Linked DNA regions of Homo sapiens. The protein of the gene in region 2 interacts with the protein of the main gene of each other region in a pairwise test. Each region holds a gene or a part of one and is shown on either strand. Other genes may lie near its edges.

Region 1 (3,500 bases), on a different chromosome or scaffold from region 2:
TAATATAAGTAAAATTAGATATTTTATGTCTGAATTTAAACCTTCTCATTGTTCCAGTAAAAAGAGCAAAATGTCTTTGTGTGGCATATAGCTCTGTTAACTAATAATTAGTGCTGTCTTTGGTAAAATGTTTTAAAATTTAGATAATTTATTTTTCTTCACATTTTTCTTAGTATGGTTCTTCTGTGTCACACAATAGGAAGGAAGTACAGAAATGAATTGTTTTTGTAAACCTCACTTCTTACCAACTATTTGTAGTGTGAATTTCAAGAGAATTGTTGTTTTTCTCGATTAAAGGGGAGAAATGGAAGTAAGTGTGAGGCAACTTAATCTTTAATAACAGAGCTGGAAGTTAGGAATGGATAGCTACAGTAAATGACTTCTTTTTTTAAGTAAAATGCCACACATGAGCATGAATGTTTCAGAAATGCAACACATGAAAAAATAGAAATAACAATGGAGTTAAATAATTAAGGTGACGTATGATAGGCACAGATAAAGGGAATGAGTTAATGTAATGACTAGGGAGGAGCCAGACAATGAATCATAATTAGGAACATCTAGGTTATGCATAGTATCTTTCTCAAATACAATTTAAGGGACTCAGAATTTCATTTTGTTCCAACTTTCTCTCATATGGGTTCTCTGAAAATGATTTTGTTTGTAGGCACATGACCCAAATATTGCATGGGATAAAATTGTTTTTCTGAAATTCATATTTATCTGGGCCTCCTCTGTTTTTATTTTTAAAACAGAGGTGATTTGGTCTTGCCATTTGTTTTTAACTTTAATACCTGTATAATCTAGGACAGCTTTTAAAATTTATTTATTTTACCCTGGCACGTGCAAGAGTTTTTTCAAGACTTACCTTTTTTCCCCCTTGGTAACAGAATCCCTATTGCCAGAATCTTTTACAGTTTTTACCTTGTAGTGCATAAATCAGTTGAATACTCATCTGAAAATTTCCTTTCTTTGATTCTTAAGGCCCAGTTGAAAGTCAGCCTGATGTATTGGAGTAATAAAGTCAGCCTGATATATTGGCATAGCCTTTGGCTGATGAGAGACCTAGTTTGAGGAAAAAAATAATAGATCTTATTTTCTTTTTCTCCAAATTGAGTAGAGGTGATATTTGGAAAAATATATATTGTTAGCTCCATTGGCTCCTTTAGGTCTCAGGCAAAGTCTGTCACCGAGGACCTTTATGAGAGACATGCAGTCTAGTCAGCTATTCTCAACTGTGGTGTTGACACACTGGTGTGACAATCATTTGTGTGATGTGTTGCAAGAGTTAAAATATTTGTGTTGTAAATTATTTACTTTTTAAATAAATGAAAGCATTTGAAGGTTATCTCTATATTGTCATTTTTTCTTGCTTGCATTTGAATAAGGTTCTTTTTTAAGTGGGAGATAAACACAAGTTCAAGTTACAAGTAGCCAGAATTGCTTTGCCTAATTTACTCACGTCCCAGTCCATATTTGTACCTGAATTTTTAGATTACTTCTCTCAATATGTGCATTGTTGCTTCCACTTCATGTTTTAAGACAATTATTCTTAATCAGGAGTGTGTTAGAATTTCTTGGAAGGCTTTTTCAGCAACGTGTATCTGGGCTTTAAAAACTATGAAGATTTCTTTATCTTCTAAACATCTCAAGTGGGGTAAGGACATGTATGTTTTGAAAAAACTACCTAGGTGATTCTGATGTACATCCCCAGTATGAACTCTGTTCTAGGGATTTCTTTGGATCTAAATACTCATTTGGCTATACCAGGATGCATTATCTTCTTAAATTAAGTTGCATTTATTTTAGATTGCAGATTATGTGCTGTATCAGTTATTACCTCCAGTTGCTTTTATGCTTGTTTTTTAAATTTGGCACTGCCATATTAGCATACCATTCATAATTCATTTTTATTATAACTTCATATAATTTTCAACTTTAGTTTTATCATGTGTAAGATGGGATAATAATTTCTATTATTTTTCAAATGGAGATTAAAGTTAAGAGGATCAAATGAGAAATGTATATAAAGGGGTCTTAAAATAATGTTATAATTACAATAATTAGCTTTTTTTTCTGTATACTTGATGCTGGTTGCTAATTCTAGCAATAAAGTGTTTGTTAATAATGTGTCTATTTCCGATAATTTATGATCCATTTAAACATTTCAATGTAATTTTTTTATTTTAAAAGCTCATGCTTTATTAGATAGGCACTATGTTTTAAAATAGCACTCTTTCTTGCCTAAGCGCAAATAAAAACATAGATATATCTTACAAACATTTTGGCTGTATTTTAGAAGTTATTCTGATGTATATTAGCCTTTTAAAATACTATTCAGAATATAGGGGTCAGTCCCAGCTTTGCATAGTGTTGCTTAAAGAAAAATACAGTAATCAATTTGTTTAGAGTCAATTTTGGAGACGTTTTGGTGCTTTTCAAAACTGTGGCGATTTGAGGTTATCTTAGTTAAGAGTACTTATTTTCCCTACAATTTCCTGATTTATGTTTTACCCTCTTGCACTCCATAGATGACTACATTTCAACACATTTTATATTCAGGAAGAATGGCATTGTGCAAAGCACAGTACTGAGGAAGGAGATAACTGGTGCATTGTACTGATGCATTATATAAATGATTTATAGCTGGGAAGTTTTTTAAAAATCATAAACACAGATAAATCAAAATAGGAATGAGTATGAGGAAATACTGAGGTGTAGCAATCCTGGTACCTATAAAGCACTATTTTTTTTTCCTTAGTAGTGGAATCTAATTAAAAAATCTGACTAATCACTTATATGATTATTTAACGTTTGAATAACTTGTATAAACAAAAGACCTTAAGATTTTTTAGTCATTCATTCAATAGATGTTTAATGAATATCTCTGTACAAGGCACTGATGAGTTAAACACAATTTCTGCCTTCAAGTAGCTTGAAGAAATAAAACAAGTAGCTTTATCTCAAGAAGAAATAAGACGGTAAGTTTTCCCTAAATTACAGTTATTTGGAATAATTGCTATACACAGAATACTATGGTAGTTTAAAGGAGGGGAGATTATTTCCAGCTGGGGGAATGTAGAGTATTACAGTATACTGTGTTACTTGGTTGTAATACTCTACATTCCCCCAGCTTGTTAATTTTTACCAATTAAGAGCTTCTGCAGTAGGAAAAATAAATTCCAAGGACTTTAAATACTCAATATTATATGATAACTGATATTTATGTAATTTTTACTATTTAAAAATATTTAATCTTTTCAACAACTACTTTTCTGTTCTTTTTGTAAACAATCTAAAGAAGTGTCATGTAACCAATGAAGTTTTGGGTTTTTTTGTTGTTGTTTTTGTGTTTTGTTTGTTTTTTTTTTTGAGACGGAGTCTCACTCTGTCACCCAGGCTAGAGTGCAGTGGTACAATCTTGGCTCACTGCAGCCTCCACCTCCTGGGTTCAAGCAATTCTCTTGCCTCAGTCTCCCAAGTAGCTGGGATTACAGGTG
Region 2 (2,424 bases):
CCATTCTGGCCAGAGCAGGGCTGGAGGGAAGGAGCCAGGAGGGAGAGAGCCTCCCACCTTTCCCCTGCTGCGGATGCTGAGTGCTGGGGCGGGGAGCCTTCAGGAGCCCCGTGCGTCTGCCGCCACGTTGCAGAAAGAGCCAGCCAAGGAGACCCGGGGGAGGAACCGCAGTGTCCCCTGTCACCACACGGAATAGTGAATGTGGAGTGTGGAGAGGAAGGAGGCAGATTCATTTCTAAGACGCACTCTGGAGCCATGTAGCCTGGAGTCAACCCATTTTCCACGGTCTTTTCTGCAAGTGGGCAGGCCCCTCCTCGGGGTCTGTGTCCTTGAGACTTGGAGCCCTGCCTCTGAGCCTGGACGGGAAGTGTGGCCTGTTGTGTGTGTGCGTTCTGAGCGTGTTGGCCAGTGGCTGTGGAGGGGACCACCTGCCACCCACGGTCACCACTCCCTTGTGGCAGCTTTCTCTTCAAATAGGAAGAACGCACAGAGGGCAGGAGCCTCCTGTTTGCAGACGTTGGCGGGCCCCGAGGCTCCCAGAGCAGCCTCTGTCACCGCTTCTGTGTAGCAAACATTAACGATGACAGGGGTAGAAATTCTTCGGTGCCGTTCAGCTTACAAGGATCAGCCATGTGCCTCTGTACTATGTCCACTTTGCAATATTTACCGACAGCCGTCTTTTGTTCTTTCTTTCCTGTTTTCCATTTTTAAACTAGTAACAGCAGGCCTTTTGCGTTTACAATGGAACACAATCACCAAGAAATTAGTCAGGGCGAAAAGAAAAAAATAATACTATTAATAAGAAACCAACAAACAAGAACCTCTCTTTCTAGGGATTTCTAAATATATAAAATGACTGTTCCTTAGAATGTTTAACTTAAGAATTATTTCAGTTTGTCTGGGCCACACTGGGGCAGAGGGGGGAGGGAGGGATACAGAGATGGATGCCACTTACCTCAGATCTTTTAAAGTGGAAATCCAAATTGAATTTTCATTTGGACTTTCAGGATAATTTTCTATGTTGGTCAACTTTTCGTTTTCCCTAACTCACCCAGTTTAGTTTGGGATGATTTGATTTCTGTTGTTGTTGATCCCATTTCTAACTTGGAATTGTGAGCCTCTATGTTTTCTGTTAGGTGAGTGTGTTGGGTTTTTTCCCCCCACCAGGAAGTGGCAGCATCCCTCCTTCTCCCCTAAAGGGACTCTGCGGAACCTTTCACACCTCTTTCTCAGGGACGGGGCAGGTGTGTGTGTGGTACACTGACGTGTCCAGAAGCAGCACTTTGACTGCTCTGGAGTAGGGTTGTACAATTTCAAGGAATGTTTGGATTTCCTGCATCTTGTGGATTACTCCTTAGATACCGCATAGATTGCAATATAATGCTGCATGTTCAAGATGAACAGTAGCTCCTAGTAATCATAAAATCCACTCTTTGCACAGTTTGATCTTTACTGAAATATGTTGCCAAAATTTATTTTTGTTGTTGTAGCTCTGGATTTTGTTTTGTTTTGTTTTTTAAGGAAACGATTGACAATACCCTTTAACATCTGTGACTACTAAGGAAACCTATTTCTTTCATAGAGAGAAAAATCTCCAATGCTTTTGAAGACACTAATACCGTGCTATTTCAGATATGGGTGAGGAAGCAGAGCTCTCGGTACCGAAGGCCGGGCTTCTTGAGCTGTGTTGGTTGTCATGGCTACTGTTTCATGAACCACAAGCAGCTCAACAGACTGGTCTGTTGCCTTCTGAAACCCTTTGCACTTCAATTTGCACCAGGTGAAAACAGGGCCAGCAGACTCCATGGCCCAATTCGGTTTCTTCGGTGGTGATGTGAAAGGAGAGAATTACACTTTTTTTTTTTTTAAGTGGCGTGGAGGCCTTTGCTTCCACATTTGTTTTTAACCCAGAATTTCTGAAATAGAGAATTTAAGAACACATCAAGTAATAAATATACAGAGAATATACTTTTTTATAAAGCACATGCATCTGCTATTGTGTTGGGTTGGTTTCCTCTCTTTTCCACGGACAGTGTTGTGTTTCTGGCATAGGGAAACTCCAAACAACTTGCACACCTCTACTCCGGAGCTGAGATTTCTTTTACATAGATGACCTCGCTTCAAATACGTTACCTTACTGATGATAGGATCTTTTCTTGTAGCACTATACCTTGTGGGAATTTTTTTTTAAATGTACACCTGATTTGAGAAGCTGAAGAAAACAAAATTTTGAAGCACTCACTTTGAGGAGTACAGGTAATGTTTTAAAAAATTGCACAAAAGAAAAATGAATGTCGAAATGATTCATTCAGTGTTTGAAAGATATGGCTCTGTTGAAACAATGAGTTTCATACTTTGTTTGTAAAAAAAAAAAAGCAGAGAAGGGTTGAAAGTTACATGTTTTTTTGTATATAGAAATTTGTC

Evidence for each region.
Region 1: the proteins of ATXN1 (region 2) and REL interact in binary tests that used the Homo sapiens proteins (3 or more experiments, as listed by UniProt).

The regions. Positions count from the first base shown.
Region 1 is NC_000002.12:60,884,574-60,888,073, forward strand, and holds part of REL (proto-oncogene c-Rel), read left to right. Parts: intron 1-3,500. UniProt on the Homo sapiens protein: Proto-oncogene that may play a role in differentiation and lymphopoiesis.
Region 2 is NC_000006.12:16,301,037-16,303,460, reverse strand, and holds part of ATXN1 (ataxin-1), read left to right. Parts: 3' UTR 1-2,424. UniProt on the Homo sapiens protein: Chromatin-binding factor that repress Notch signaling in the absence of Notch intracellular domain by acting as a CBF1 corepressor. Binds to the HEY promoter and might assist, along with NCOR2, RBPJ-mediated repression. Binds RNA in vitro.